Regions from separate parts of the Homo sapiens genome. Here region 2 is linked to region 1. A link means that fine-mapping ties the variant in region 1 to the expression of a gene that starts in the linked region. Tissue or cell type: whole blood. Region 1 holds a variant in brackets; the other region holds the start of a gene. All regions are shown on one strand. Distances are between the middles of the regions.

Region 1 (8,104 bases):
GTGGGATGGGAACAGGTCCCCTGAGACAGAGCCTCATCTGTCAAATGGAGTAAGAATAATAGGGCTGTGATGAGAATGAAATAAACTCTCACACATGGTTTGCATTCACAAAGGTGGTCACTGCTATGACAAACATGATGCCACTCCAAGGGATGGGCTGGATAGTTAAAGTTCAGCGACAGAGGAGAGCGCTCATGTAGGATGTCTCAGCGTTCCATGTACCCACAGCGGGACGCTTTCAAGGACATGTCCCAAAGTGAGCAGGCTCTGTCTCCCTCTTAGCAGCAGTGTCCAGATGGCAGATTTGCACAAGACGTCAGCGTGTTATGAGAAAACATAATGCCAGTCCATCATTTCTGATGCTTTGCCTGAGAGGTTTCCCCCATTATCTCATGTTTTAAATCATCAAGTAGGCACTGTTCCTAAATGCAGGATGCTGGGCGGAATTTCACACAGGTACAAAATGGAGAAGTTGAGTCCTTACTCTCAAGAAGTAACTCTCATAGCAATTCTGTGAGTTTGGTAGGGCTGTTATTAGCATGTCCTTTTTACAGATGAAGAAACTGAGTCCCACACAGGCTAAATGCCCTGCCCAAGATCTTGTAGCTACTAAAGTTGCTGGCAATGTTGAAACTCAAGCCTATGGGGGTCCTGACCTCCAGCCTCGTGTCTTCCTCTGGCTATGGGTTCTCTGAGACATCAAAGCATGGGCTTAAGACTGTCAGAGGCACCGCCTGCCTCACAAATAATCAAGCAATGAGGACAGGAAACCAAGACAGAGGCCTTGTCAGGACCTACTATATAATTTGCAGGGCCAAGTACAAAATGAAAATGCAAGCCCCTTCTTCGAATATCATGAAGACAGTGACAGCAGAGGATCAAAGCCAGCTCAGGGCCCTTCCACGCACCAGTCCCTGTGTGGCTGTGACTGCACAGTCACATGTTCCTGAAGCCAGCCTGCCCCTCGTCCCTGTCACACAAACGCCCAGTGCAGAGCAGACATCTAAGTAACCCTACCGTCTGGCTCAAACAAGAAACAAACTCTCCTGGTCAGGCTGTGAGCCTGCCCTGACCCCACATCCAGCCACCTGCCGTGTGGACACGCATCTCTCGGGATGGCTGACCCAGCATCCTTCAGCATTTCCGACTTTGCAGATTTGCAATCTCTTGGCTGACACTGCAGCCACCTTCTTTGTCTGAGAAACCGTCGCCCTTGCCAGGGTTCAGCGCAGCAACACACAGATCCATTAACACTCTCCGGGTGCCATGGAGTGGAAATGTCTACGTAAAGCCAGAGGGCTCGTTGGCAGGGCTGTCAGAGCTGCATTTTTCTTAAGCAACTGTTTTGTCTCCTTGTTTGTGGCACCTATGGCTGTCTTGCAGAAAACAACACACTACAGTGACAACTGGCTGATCTTTCTTTCCATCTGCCACGCGAGCCTTACTTTTTCTGAATAATAGGTACACAGGAATGGCAGAGAAGCCAGACCCTGCTAGAATTTCATGAATAAGGAAGAGAATTTGGTATTAATTAGACATCAGAGGCAGACAGAAGTGAGTCCTGGGTCTTCCAAAGACCTGATGAATTAGCTGTGAGATTTAAACAGGGCACATTCTCTTTCTTATGGCTTGAACTGTGTTTCCCCCAAAAAAAGATATGTTGAAGTCCTACCCCCCAGTACCTCAGAATGTGACCTTCTTTGAAAATATAGACCAGGCATGGTGGCTCATACCTGTAATCCCAGCACTTTGGGAGGCGAAGGCGGGCGGATCACCTAAGGTCAGGAGTTCAAGACCAGCCTGGCCAACATGGTGAAACCCTATCTCTACTAAAACTACAAAAATTAGCTGTGTGTGGTAGCAGGTGCCTGTAATCCCAGCTATCAGGAGGCTGAGGTAGGAGAATCACTTGAACCCAGGAGGCGGAGGTGGCAGTGAGCCAAGATCACACCATTGCACTCCAGCCTGGGTGACAGAGCAAGACTCCATCAAAGAAAGGAGAGAGAGAGAGAGAGAGGGAGAGGGAGAGGGAGAGAGAGAGAGAAAGAGGGAGAGAAAGGAAGGAAGGAAGGAAAGAAGGGAGTGAGGAAGGGGAAAATACAGGCGGTGGCTCACACCTGTAATCCTAGCACTTTGGGAGACTGAGGCAGGCAGATCAATTGAGGCCAGTAATTCAAGACCATCCTGGCCAACATGGTGAAACCCCAACTCTACTAAAAAGTATAAAAATTAGCCGGGCATGGTGGTGCACGCCTATAGTCCCAGCTATTCAGGATGCTGAGGCACGAGAATTGCTTGAACCCAGGAGGCGGAGGTTGCAGTGAGCCAAGATTGTACCACTGCACTCCGGCCTAGGTGAAAGAATGAGACTCTGTCTCAAAAAAAAAAAAAAAAAAAAAAAAAAAAACGGAAAATATAGAGTTGTTGCAGATGTAATTAGTTAAATTAAGATGAGGTCATACTGGAGCAGTGTGGACCTCTAACCCAATATGACTAGTGTCCTTATAAGAGAGATGAAGAGACACATGTGACGGTGGAGGCAGAGACTGGAGTGATGTTTCCACAGGCCAAGGAACATGGAAGATGCCCATCAGGCCACCAGAAGCCGGGAGGGAGGCCTGGGCTAGATAATCCCAGCACCACTTGCCACCTTGGAAGAGGACACACCAGGCCCAGCTCAGCCTTCAGGTGGCCGCCTCCCTGGCTGACAGCTGGCCCAGCCGTAGCCTGGGTGGCTGTAGAAGGAAGCAACCCTGCCAACACCTTGATCTCAGGCCTCTGGCCTCCAGAGCTGTGTGAGAGCACATTTCAAGTGCACGAAGCCACCCGGTGAGCGGCACTTTGCCACGGCAGCCCCAGGAAATGGACGCACCTCTTTACCTGAAACGTAACAAGGGTGTTGGCCTGGATGATCTCTGGGGTCCTTTCCATCTCTACATATGCTGACTTTGGTCACATTCTCATCTTGTCCCCAAAAGTCAAATTGTCACTCAAGTCAAATTTACCTAGTTCTGTTGTTCCTTCATTCCAGAAGCTTCCTGGACCCCAGCAACCAGCACCGTCTCCCTCTGCAGCTCCCCAGTGAGTGGGCTGCCTCCTCAACTGCACATCTGCTTCATGTCAGGCCCTCTGCTGCGAACTGGGGTAAAAATGCAGACTGGGTTCTTGACCCCGTGAAGGTGAAATTCTAGTGGAGACTTGGCTTTGAACACAAAATCTACTAGGGCAGCCGTCCCCTAGGATGGCCCCCAGTGAGCCCCACATCCTGGTGATGTTCACAACCCCATGGAGTTGCATCTCTTGTTGATGTGGGGCTGGCCTATCAACCGATGAATGGATGGAGGAGATGTGGTATGTCCATACAATGGAATAGCACTCAGCTATGAAAAGGAACAAAATGCTGACACATGTTACAACATGGAGGAACTTCGGAAACATTATGTTGAGTGAAATAACACAGGCACTAAAGGACAAAAACCACAGGATTCTACTTAAATGAGGTTCCTAGAATAGGCAGAATTCACAGAGACAGAAAGCAGATTAGGGGCTACCAGGGATGGGGAGAGATGGGGGAATGGGAGTTATTGATTAATGGATACAGAGTTTCTACATGGAGTGGTGGGAAGGTTTTGGAAGTAGATGTAGTGATGGTTGTACATTGTGAATATAATTCACACCACTGAATTGCACATCTGAAAAGGATTAGCATGGCATGGTTTGTGATATATATTTTACCACAATAATATAAAAATAAATTCAAAGCCAGCCTGGGCCATAGAGCAAGACCCTATCTCTAAAAAAAAAAAAAAAAATTAAGTAGCCAAGCATGGTGGCGCATGCCTGTGGTCCCAGTTACTTGGAAGACTGAGACGGGAGGATCCCTTGAGCCTGAGAGGTCAAGGCTGCAGTGAGCCATGATCAAGCCCCTAGCTGATCTAGCTGCACTCTAGCCTGGGCAATCAAGCAAGACCGTCTCAAAAAAAAGACTGACCTATGTGACCAACACAACTCGGTAGACATGCTAGTGTGTGACCTTCACATCAAGGTCACAAAGGCATCCTGGCCTCTGCCTCTGACTCCAGGCTCACTCGTTCTGGAGGAAGCTGGCTGCCACACCACGAAGACATGCAAGCAGCCCCATGGCAAGACCCTTG[C/T]GAAGGGAAACTGAGGCCTCCTGTCGATCGCCAGCACCAACTTGCCACCTTGGAAGAGGACCTACAAGGCCCAGCTCAGCCTTCAGTGAACCGCCTCCCTGGTTGACAGCTGGCCCAGCTGCAGCCTCCTGAGAGGCCAGAACCACCCAGCTAAACCTCTCCTGACACCTAAACCAAGGACACCATGGCACATGATAAGTAATTATGTGGTTTTAAGCCAATATGTTTTGGAGTTATTTGCTACATATCATTATAGCACTAATACACTCATCAGTAAATATGAGGACAGGCTCATGTCTGTAGTCCCAGCACTTTGGGATGCCAAGGCAGGAGGATCACTTGAGCCCAGGAGTTCAAAACTAGTCTGGGCAACATAGAAAGACCCTGTCTCTATTTTTTTTTTAATTAAAAAAATTTTTAAGAAGTACAAAAAATAAATAAATATGAGGACAAAGTGGCCAAGCGTGGTGTCTCACGCCCATAATCCCAGCACTTTGGGAGGCTGAGGCGGGCAGATCACAAGGTCAGGAAATCGAGACCATCCTGGCCAACATGGTGAAACCCTATCTCTACTAAAATACAAAAAATTAGCCAGGCGTGGCGGCGTGTGCCTGTAGTCCCAGCTACTTGGGAGGCTGAAGCAGGGGAATTGCTTGAACCCGGGAGGCAGAGGTTGCAGTGAGCCGAGATCGCTCCTGCACTCCAGCCTGGGCAACAGAGTGAGTCTCCATCAAAAAAAAAAGAAAAAAAAGGGCAAAGTGTACTAAGGGCAACAAAAGCACAGGGCGCAGGTGTGGGGAGGGAGAATATAATGGATCATAACCATCACCTCAGTAACGGCAGGGGCTTCTTTTCTCAGGAGGTTCCCTGGCGGAGTTTGTAAGGATGATTATATCTACACCTGAATGCCTTTTGTCAGTGTTGGTGAACTCTCAGTTTTTAAATATTGCTTCTGCCACATTTTTTCTCCTCCTGTTTTGTGACCCCAATTATAGGTATGTTTGCTCTTTTCATTCTATCCCATATTTTCTTTAAACTCTACCCTGCGATTCCCCCCTCTTGTCTCTCTGTGCTTCTGTCCAGACTATTTTCTTCTATGCCTTTCATTTGTACATTTCCTGCTATCAGACCCACCAGCGGTATTTTCAGTTTCTGTACTTTTCACTTTTCACAGAATTTCCACTTGGTTCTTTTTTTATACTTTCCAGTTCTCTGCCAAAAATTCTTAATCTTGCCTTTTCATCCTTGATCGCATTCATCATGGATAATTCCATGATCAGGATCCTCGTGGGTCTGTTTCTATTGTCTGATTGTCTGATTTTTCTCCCAGGTTTTCACCCCTGTCTTGTCTTTTTCTTACTCCAGAGCCCATTTATTGACTGCCAAGCACTGTGTGTGGAAAATGATAGAGATAATTTGAGACTCTGAACTGTTATTTTTATCCAGAAAGGAATTTTTTTTTTTGAGACGGAGTCTTGCTCTGTTGCCCAGGCTGGAGTGCAGTGGTGTGATCTCGGCTCACTGCAACCTCCAACTCCTGAGTTCAAGCCATTCTCCTGCCTCAGCCTCCCCAGTAGCTGGGATTACAGGCACAAGCCACCACATCCAGCTAATTTTTGTATTTTTAGTAGAGATGGGGTTTCACCATGTTGGCCAGGCTGGTCTCCAACTCCTGACCTCAAGTGATCCACTGGCCTCAGCCTCCCAAAGTGCTGGGACTATAGGCGTGAGCCACCATGCCCAGCAGGATTTCTTTTTGCTGCTAGAAGGTAGCAAGCAATCTCTGATCATCATAATCCAGGGGCTCCCAAACTGTCTCCAGTGACAACACCTTGAGTGTCCCCCTAATTTTTTCACGGCCCTCCTAGGCCAAAAGAAATAGATAGAGGTTCCATGTATTAGACAGTTAAGTACAAACAACTGAAGTATTCATATTCTAACAACTTAGTAGACATTCAAAAAATGATCCCCATAAATTAAAAATATTTTGTTTCATTCTTAAACTACCATACTACCATAATCACTTCCCAATGGAATGTGGTGTCCGTTGGGCGCTGCACAACTTTTTAAGCCTTGGAGGTGGATTGGACGCCATCATCTTCACTTCCAGCTCCACACGGATCTCCACGTAGCTCAAAGTCTCTATCACAGCGACTGCTGGAAGCGAAGCTCTGCAAAGACACGAAGTCATTCAGAGGACAGTCCCACAATCTTAGTTGACACTGGGAACTACCTCAAGATAGGAGTTCATTCTGTTCTGAAGAAATAATGAAAAATCAACACAAATAAATAAATAGATAATAAGTTTAAAAAAGAAGTTCATGTTATGTCTGACAGAGGTTAATGTTCTTCCCTCAAAAAAAAAGATTTTTTAAATTAAATTAAATTTTTTTTAGAGACAAGGTGTTGCTATGCAGCCCAGGCTGACCTCAAATTCCTGGGGGCTCAAGTGATCCTCCCACCTCAACCTCCCACGTGGCTGGGACTGCAGGCCGCCAGGCCAGACTCCTCAAAATTTTCAAACATCCCACTGCACCCTGTGAGCTCACTGGGCGTCCTGCGGTGCCTTGGAGTTTTGTTTAGGAACCCAGGTCCTAACCCAGTCAAGGACTTAAAAGATTTGGTGGTGGCCATGGTTCTTTCTAAGAGCTGGGTTATTTCTGTTCAGTCTTCGCTACTGGAGTGTGGTTCTTCAGGGCGCCACGAAAGTCTGGGATACTTACCAGGACCCTCCTGGATGGGCCTTGAAATCTAATTTTTTCTCTTCCAGCCCCAAGCATCTGATAAATCTTTGCTCAGCTTCACTCTTTCAAACCACTACTTCTGTGGGGTTTTTTGTTTTTTTGTTTTTTGAGATGGAGTTTCACTCTTGTCGCCCAAGCTGGAGTGCACTGGTGTGATCTCTGCTCACCGCAACCTCCACCTCCCAGGTTCAAGTGATTCTCCTGTCTCAGCCTCCCAAGTAGCTGGGATTACAGGCGCCCGCCACGATGCCCAGCTAATTTTTTGTATTTTTAGAAGAGGCGGGGTTTTGCCATGTTGGGCAGGCTGGTCTCGAACTCCTGAACTCAGGTGATCTGCCTGCCTCGGCCTCCCAGAGTGCTGGGATTACAGGCATGAGCCACCGGACCCAGCCTACTTTTGAATTAAAATCACCCCCAAGTAAAAGGAGGGACCGATGCCAGGCTCTCCTCTCTGGATTTCCCTCTGTGTGTGTGTGTGTGCATGTGTACATGCGTGTATGTGTGTGTGCATGCATATGTGTGCATGCGTGTGTGTGGGTGCATGCATGTAGTGTGTGTGCATGTGCATGTGTGCATGTGTGTACGTGGGTGTGTGTGTATTCCATTGTTTTTTGTTCACATTGGAAGTTCAGCCTAAAACAACCTAGTCTGCCACTGTCAAAAGCAGATATTCCTCAGTCTTTTTAAAAACTTATCATCTAAATTTTCCAACAGACCTAAAAATACAGAGATAATATAATTAACTCCACGAGAAAACTATTAAAACTGATCAGTAAAGTTGCAAGATACAAAATTAACATGCAAAAATCAGTAGGATTTCTATTTGCCAATAGCAAACAATCGGAAAAATAAATTTAAAATGTAATCCCATTACAACAGCCACAAATAAAATTAAACACCAGGGAATTAACTAACCAAAGAAGTGAAATATTTCTATAATAAAAACTATAAAACACTGATGATGGAAATTGAAGAGGACACCAAAAAAAAGGAGGGCAGAGAGGGGGAAAGTTCTAGAAAAGGAAACAGAAGACATTTGGTACAAGGTCCAAATAAAACAAGATCCCCCCCCAAAAAAAATGCAGGAAAAAAAATCATCAAATAAGTTATTCAAGAAAATGTCTCCAAATGATAGGATATGGATTATAGGTTTAAAACAAAATTAAGTGCCTTGCACAGTGAGTAAAAAGAAGAGTTTTACTGGGC
Region 2 (8,104 bases), 350 kb after region 1:
TTCCTCAAATATATAAAGCCGGGCATTTTCACTAATCCTGCATTTCTGCTTATTTTCAGGGACATATTTGGAGAAGACTGTGTAAGTGTAAAGGATGACTCTATTCTTAGCGTCACAGTGGACGGGAAAACTGCCAACCTTAACTTGGAGACACGGGTATGTAGCTGCTCTTTCCTACGTTTCAAGACATTTGGGAAATAAAGTGAAGGCATAAATAATCTGTGCTCTCACACTCAACAGTCTACTGTTGCATATTGGCATTTGCTTCCAGTGTTTCCAACATTTTTTTCACATTGTTCTTTTTATATTATTATGGTTGAAGTTTTCCGTGTTTTTCCGGGTTACTGCATAGTACAAGGTTCGCGTGTATGCCACTCCATTGCTGTCCTCTTCCATAATACAGCTTAGTTCACCTCATCCCTTCTCTAGTTTGGCATCTAGTTGACTCTCCATTTTTTAAAGAAGCCGCTCTTCTGTTTGCACCAGCAAGATCCAAGTGGATTTTCCAAACAGTTCAAAACCAGCCCGGGCAACACAGTTAAACCCCATCTCTACTAAAAAATACAAAAAAAATTAGCCGGGAATGGCGGCAGCTGCCTGTAGTCCCAGCTACTCAGGAGGCTGAGGCAGGAGAATTGCTTGAAACAGGGAGGCAGAGGTTGCAGTGAGCCAAGATCACATTACTGCACTCCAGCCTGGATGATAGAGCGAGACTCTGTCTCCAAAAAAAAAAAAAAAAAGAACTAGAGGCCAGGCGTGGTGGTTCACGCCTGTAATCCCAACACTTTGGGAGGTCAAGGTGGGTGGATCATCTGAGGTCAAGAGTTTGAGACCAGCCTGGCCAACATGATGAAACCCCATCTCTACTAAAAATACAAAAATTACCCAGGCGTGGTGGTGTGCCTGTAATCCCAGCTACTTGGGAGGCTAAGGCAGGAGAACCCAGGAATCACCTTAACCCAAGAGACAGAGGTTGCAGTGAGCTGAGATCACATCACTGCACTCCAGCCTGGGCGACAGAGCGAGATTCTGTCTCAAAAAAAAAAAAAAAAAGAAGCAACTAGAAGATTATTAGTGAGTTTCAGTCAAATTCAGTACCAAATGTTGAGTAGATAGCCACATCCATTCCTTGCCAAGTAATTTGTGTGGCATAGATGAACTTCCCTGGAGTATCATTTACTAGATCAAACTGTGGGCTTTGATGTAAATGTAGTTTACTAGACTTTCCCCAGTCTTTCACCCCAGCCTCAAGTCATCACTAATTAGGACCGTGCTGCTGTCAGGAAGCACTGCACGCCCACAAGTGTGTAGGGCGGCCGTTCTGTTTCATGGTAATCAGTCCCACCATGACCTCTGCACACACAGATGATTGTTCTTTTTTTTAGTTTGAGACCCGGTCTCGCAGTGCCGCCCAGGCTGGAGTGCAGTGGTGCAGTCACAGCTCACTGCAGCCTCAACCTTCCCGGCTCAGTGATCCTCCCACCTCAGACTCTTATCTGGGACCACAGGCACACGCCACCACAGCTGGCTAATTTTTTATGAGATGATGGTTTTTTTAAAGAGTATTCATTTATCTTCTATATAATCATTATAGACTTAATTCTAACAGTCTTGTTTGTGCCTCACTTTCAGACTGTAGAATGTGAAGAGGGAAGTGAAGACGATGAATCCCTCCGAGAAATGGTGGAGCTGGCTGCACAGAGACTGTACGAGGCCCTGACGCCAGTTCACTGAGACTGTGCCTGTATATGAACTTTGAAAAAATACTTGACTCTACTTTTGTTACCTAAAATAAAATGCATTCGTTTCTCTGGGGGAGCCTGTTTACTTTTAATGTCAAATGGCCTTTATTTCAACAGCCTGAATACTGCTAAATTGCTAATTAATTTGTCCATTATTCTAGAACTAACTACTAGATCAACTGCCCATTATTTTAGAATTTTGGATTCTTCTTCCAGGCATGTATGTGCAGCTCCCATTGAAACCATCAAGATCTGCCGATAGCAACCGCTGCTGGTTACCCTCTCCTCTGGGGTAACCAATTTGAGTTAATAATAAGGATTCTAAGTTGCACTTGAATCTTTTCTGTCTTCATCTCCACTGCTGCTGTTCGAGTCCAAGTCTACTCTCCCCTCTGAATTCCTGCAACCACCTCCATCTCCTCCCCTATAGCTGATTCCTGGAACAGACCTGGCCTCAAGCCTCTGCTGCTTGAAGGCCTTAATGAAGTCCTTGTGATAAAGATGAAGTCCAGGCACCTTTGCTTGCTCTAGCAGGGGCTCTCAATCTGGGCTACCCGTGGGAATCACGTGGGGTGCATCACAAGTGCACCTGTGCCCAAGTCCTGCCACCAGGAGGTGAGTTAGTCCGGCTGGAATGAGGGCCCTAGGTTGGATCTTAGTTGTAAAGCTCCCCCAGGTGATCCAAGCGAGCTTGGGACGAGCAACCTAAAGAAAGTCATGCTCTACGCCCATCGCCCCGCCCCAGGGAGCGGGGTCGGCCTCTGCGCCGGCGCCCCTGGCCCTTCTGTTACTCATCTACAGCTCCGTGATTTCAAGGCATCCTTCCCACCCGTTCGTTTTTAGCTCGGCTGCCGAACTTCATTGCACAGTTGAGGTAAGAACGTTGCATTACAACCACGTTTTAACAGGTGAATCCCTTGGAAGTTAGTCAGTGCTCCGTGTCCGCGGGGTTCTGCATCTGCGCATCCACCCCACGGCGGGAAAAAGAAAAGCGGCCGGCTGCGCGCGCACTGAAGGTGCAGCTGCTTTCCCTTGTCATTCGCAGAACCACGAGGTACTGCCAGGGTTTCCGCAGTGCCTGCGTCCTCGTGGGTGTTACAGGCCCTCCAGAGTGACGCTGGGCGCAGGAGGCCGCGCGCGCATCCCACGACCTCTTCCAGGGGGGCCTGGAGCAGCCCTCCGCCCCACCGAGAGCCAGCTGTGCTTCCCGCCGCGCGTCCTGAGGTCACACTCCTGCCCTTTGCCGAACGCACCTGCGCCCGCGGAGCGCGGGGTGGGCTTAGAAGGGCCCCCAACCGCTTTTCTTCCGGGAACCACGCAGCGGGACGCGGGCTCCGGACTCCCTGGGGGCAGCCTTGCTGTGGGTGAGCAAGCGCGGAGGCCGAGCTTCTTGCAAACGGACTCCAAGGGGCAACGACCTTCGCGCGTCACCAAAGTGACTGCGTGGGTGCCCACGAGCCCGGCTCCCGCAACCCACGGGCGGCCACTGCGCAGGCGCCTCTCGTGGCTGGCGGCCCCGCCCCGCCCCGCCCGGCTGCTCCATGGCGCTGTGCGAGGCCGCGGGCTGCGGGAGTGCCCTGCTCTGGCCTCGCTTGTTGCTCTTCGGGGACTCCATCACCCAGGTACGGCCGCCCCGACGCTCGGCCTCCCGCCCCGGCCTCCCTGCGGGGTCGCTGCCGAGCAGGCCGAGGCTCCTCGCCGTCCTCTTCGGCGCCCGAGACGGCTGGGCCGGAGGCCTGGCCACGCCCGTGGAGACACCGGAGGAGTGGCGGGTCCCCCAGTGGCTGCGCCTTCCGGGCCCGCGGCGTCCCGGAGGTCACGACGGCGTCCGCGAGAGCCCGGGCTCCAGGCACAGACGCGAGGGGACCCGGCCGCGCTGCCCGCCCCGCGCCGCCTCCCACCCGGGTCGAGATGCGCGGTCTTCCCCTCAGCGCCCTCCTGGGCAGCGGCCTTTCCCCTCCGGGTCCGGGTTAGCGGCCGCGGGCGACCGCGCGCTGTGTCCCAGGAGGCCCCGCGGCCAGCTCCGGGCAGAGGCGCCAGGAGCTCTCTCGCCCCATTCCCTGCGGGCACAGGTGGGGCCGTTAGGGGTTGACCTTGGAAGTAAAACGCCTTCAGGAATTAGGTAGAAAAGGACCATCCGTTCATCCAAGATCATCTCACCTCCCATGAAGGGAACGGTCTTCTAAATGCAGGTTCTTACTTCGGGGAGGGAGTAGAAATTCCATTCCTGTGTGTGTCCTCTTCTCAGACAGGACTTGCTTCACCAGGCTTTTGTGTATACGCCAGTAACTGGTAACATTATGTTTAGGCATATGGGGCAGTCAGAGCTGCCGAATTCCATGGGAATGTGTATGAAAAAGTGTTCACCCTCAGCTCGGTAACCAGCAAAGCAGTGAGGCGGTGTGGCCTTCATTTCCTCACTGACCTTTGACTTTATTTCCTGAACTTAGATTTCTGTTTAGCTTTTTTTTTTTTTTCTTTTTTTCTTTTTTTGAGACGGAGTCTCGCTCTGTCGCCCAGACTGGAGTGCAGTAGCGCGATCTCGGCTCACTGCAAGCTCCGCCTCCCGGATTCAAGCGTTTCTCCTGCCTCAGCCTCCCGAGTAGCTGGGATTATAGACGTGCGCCACCACACCGGGCTAATTTTTGTAATTTTAGTAGAGACGGGGTTTCGCCATGTTGACCAGGCTGGTCTCGAACTCGAGACCTCATGTGATCCGCCCGCCTTGGCCTCCCAAAGTGCTGGGAATACAGGCTGTTTAGCTTTTGATAGAGAAAAATCCCCCTCTGCTAAAGTGCTGCCAGGTGTACTTACCTGTAATCCCCAAAATGACCTCCTGGAGTGAAGCAATCAAAGCCAAGAAGGGAGCGCCGAGAAAACAGAAGTTGCCAATCAGAACTGCCCTCGCTGAGATGCCCGGTTACAGTCATTAGTAGTAATAATGGGCTTTTCTTCCTCCAGTTTTCCTTCCAGCAGGGTGGATGGGGAGCATCGCTGGCTGACAGGCTGGTCAGGTGAGAATGGTTTCCGATACTTGAGTTCTTATGGATGGAAAATGTCTTAGGGATCCGTCTTATGGATGAAGGATAGTTCTGAACAGAACATTCCTCCTTTATTAATTTTGCTTGCCTCCCCTAATCAGTATATAGGAGAAGGAACAGAAAACATTTACTCTTCACTCAGTCTGACCAATTAGATATTTTAGGGTTGAGCACTGATGGCTGGGTAGACTCAGACAAATCAAGGAAATGGCCAAGGCCTCTTCCCTAGTCAGGGGCAGACAGATCCAAGTCCAGCTGCTATGACTGCAGAACTTGCAGTTTCACTGCTACACCACACTGGTAGGAAGCTACTTTGCCTTTTTTTGAAGTGCTGCCATGACTTAAGACTCACCTTGTCACAATTCTACCGCACTTTGTTTTGGTTTTTGGTGGTTTTTGTTTTGCGACAGGGTCTCTTGTTAGGCGCGTCCACGTGAAGAGACCACCAAACAGGCTTTGTGTGAGCAACAAGGCTGTTTATTCACTTGGGTGCAAGTGGGCTGAGTCTGAAAAGAGCAAAGGGAGATGGGTAGGGCAGTACTATAGGATTTGGGTAGGTAGTGGAAAATTACAGTTAAAGGTGGTTATCTATTGTTAGCAGGGGAAGGGGGTCACAAGGTGCTCTGTGGGGAGCTCCTGAGACTCATTGTCCAGGGGAGGAATGCCACAAGGTCGATTGATTAGTTAGGGTGGGGCAGGAACAAATCACAATGGTGGAATGTCATCAGTTAAGGCAGGAACTGGCTGTTTCACTCCTTTTGTGGTTCTTCAGTTGCTCCAGGCCACCTGGATGTATACGTGCAGGTAACAGGTTATGACGGCTTAGCTTGGGCTCAGAGGCCTGACAACTCTGTCACACAGGCTTGAGTGCAGCAGTGTGATCAGGGCTCACTGCAGCCTCCACCTCTGGGGCTGAAGGCATCATCACCTCAGCCTCCTGAGTAGCTGGGACCAACAGGCACTCGCTACCACACCCAGCCCAGCACTTCATTAAAGTATTGTGATTTCACTCTGTAAAATGGCTAGTCGCATTTTATAATCATTACACACACAAACAATCTCTTAGAAATAAGGCTGAGTTTCGGTGGTGGTTCTGCAGTTTATAAATGCCACCTGAGAACTTTGAGCAGTGTCAGAAAGTGTCCCCTTGTGCTGCTTTGGAGCCGCTGCCTGACGCTGTGGCCTGCAGTTCTCCGCGGGTGCCCCAGCTTCTCTGCTTGGTTATGCATGTATGGGAATGTGAATACAGCAAAATGAACCATATTGATTTACTAATCATAAGTTGAACCCCAGGCGTCATTTTAAGAAAACTTTATGGACAACTTTAAATATCTACAGAAGCAAAGAGTGAAATGAGCCCATCCATCCCTCCTATGGATTATTCTGAAGCAAATCCCAAATCATATCATTTTACCAAGACTAAGAAAAAAAGAGTCCCTCTTATGTGACTGGTATTCTCTGAGGGGTTTCAAACCTACTGCCTGATGCGAATCCTTAACTGGGATTCTCCTCACTTTACATGTGAGGAAGGAGCACAGCGTGCCCAGGGTCACGCCTAGTCACACAGGGAGCCGAGAAACAAATCCAGGCAACCCGGCTTTTTTTTTTTTTTCCCCCATTACACCTACAGTACTGTGAATCCAACTGTTTTTAAGAAGGAAACAAAAAGTATTAACCGGTTTAAGTTGAAACACAACGAATGTATTTACTAAAACTATTTAATCAAAACCAGAAATCTCAAATATTCTATAGACTGTTTAAATATAAACCAAACTAAACTATTTAAGTTCCAGGATATTAGTGACTTTTTACCTGAGATACTTGCTCAGATTATCTATCTGTTGTGAACTCCATTTTAAAAGCACCTCACTATACCATGCTTGAAGTCAGGTAGTCTGTAGACTTCATCACAGCCCCTTTATATATAATTACTTCTCTCACGGAGGAGTATGGTGTATTTACCTGTATCTTTGAATGGCTTAAGATTAGCATGCTTCAGCTATGTTCTTGCTCCTATCAAAGTGAAACCTGGGGGTGGCTCAGAGACACGTGACGGGTTTAGAATCCCAGAGAGCACACCCTCACTAAAGGCCGGTTACTGCGACCATAAACACTTCTTGCCCACAATTCATCTTTTTAAAATTTTTCGTTTCAGAAAATGTGATGTTCTGAATCGTGGATTTTCAGGTTACAATACCAGGTGGGCCAAAATTATCCTTCCAAGATTAATCAGGAAAGGAAACAGTTTGGACATCCCAGTAGCAGTTACAATTTTCTTTGGGGCCAATGACAGTGCACTAAAAGGTAAAAGCATTTTTGATGTTCTTCTAGCTCACTTTTAATCATTTTTATGTTACAGCAAACTTGCATTTAATATACTTTTTTCAACTGTTTACTTTCTCCCAATAGATACAGTTTTGCCAAACTTATGTTGTTTATATGTATTCCTGGCTTTAACACTGGTGGATTTTATTCTTGACTCAGTTTCTACATACCTTGGTTGCTGGCAGTCCTAATCTTGCAAACAGTTAAATATTTTCTAGAGTCTGTTAGTGCTATGCTAAGTTTGTAATGTGTTCTCTTTAGTTGATGCATTTGGCAGCAGAAAGCTTAAGGATACCTTGTGGCTTGCATCACACTGATGGCAGCTGGTGGCGTGTCTTAGGGAGGGATATGTCAGGGCAGCAGCCACCCTGACCTCAGTTAGGCTTGAATCCTGGGCAATGGTGAACGTGGGTTTGGAAAAGGAGATGGTCTCTCCTTGACTGCTGAAGAATTGCTGCTGTGACTAGAGGAAAGCTAGCCATGTAAGAGGCCTTTCTTCCCCTTCTACTCTTGAAAAAAGCCTTCTGCGTGCTATCGACGAGAAAAATCAGCCTTTGTTTTGGGAAGTTAGGTAGTCACCTTCCAGAGATTTCTTTTGTTACCCTACTTGTGTCACAGAAGTGCTGTGGTCTGCTATTCACGGGCACACCGTAGGAGACCTCTGAGTTGAGGCTGGACATGAAGGAACACCAACTGCAGTAAGAGGAATTCTTGCTCTCTAGGAGAAAGATTACGTAGATGACAGGTATCGGTGGAGACTGCACACTAACCATTATATTTGGGAAGAAATTAATCTTCACTTTCTATCTTGTACCAAAAACCATAAGAAAACTCAAAACAGAATTTTTTAAAAAGATAAATTTTTATCAAATTTAGCATAAGGAAAAAACACTTCCTAAGTATAAGAGCAGTGGAGGAAGCCACAGAGGAAAAACAGGTTTATGAAATAAAATAGGCTGCGAAAAAACTGAAGAAGAAAATGATGTGTTAAGGAAA

What was found. PIP is the estimated chance that this variant, and not a neighbour inherited with it, causes the effect.
Region 2: it holds the start of IAH1, and the variant in region 1 is fine-mapped to the expression of IAH1 in whole blood (TOPMed, PIP 0.91).

What each region holds. Positions count from the first base shown.
Region 1 is chr2:9,123,362-9,131,465 of GRCh38, forward strand. LOC105373415 (a long non-coding RNA gene) reads right to left here and starts at 3,782. Exons shown (of 4, transcript XR_922770.1): 1 at 3,006-3,782. RefSeq lists a silencer at 6,146-6,306. The variant C/T (reference allele first, on the strand shown) is at 4,155.
Region 2 is chr2:9,471,284-9,479,387 of GRCh38, forward strand. It overlaps IAH1 (isoamyl acetate hydrolyzing esterase 1 (putative)), which reads left to right and starts at 3,268. Exons shown (of 6, transcript NM_001039613.3): 1 at 3,268-3,364; 2 at 4,704-4,756; 3 at 6,939-7,087. The coding sequence starts at 3,284. It overlaps CPSF3 (cleavage and polyadenylation specific factor 3), which reads left to right. Exons shown (of 18, transcript NM_016207.4): 17 at 60-156; 18 at 1,633-1,818. The coding sequence ends at 1,734. RefSeq lists a silencer at 3,040-3,809 and enhancers at 3,079-3,846, 4,327-4,887.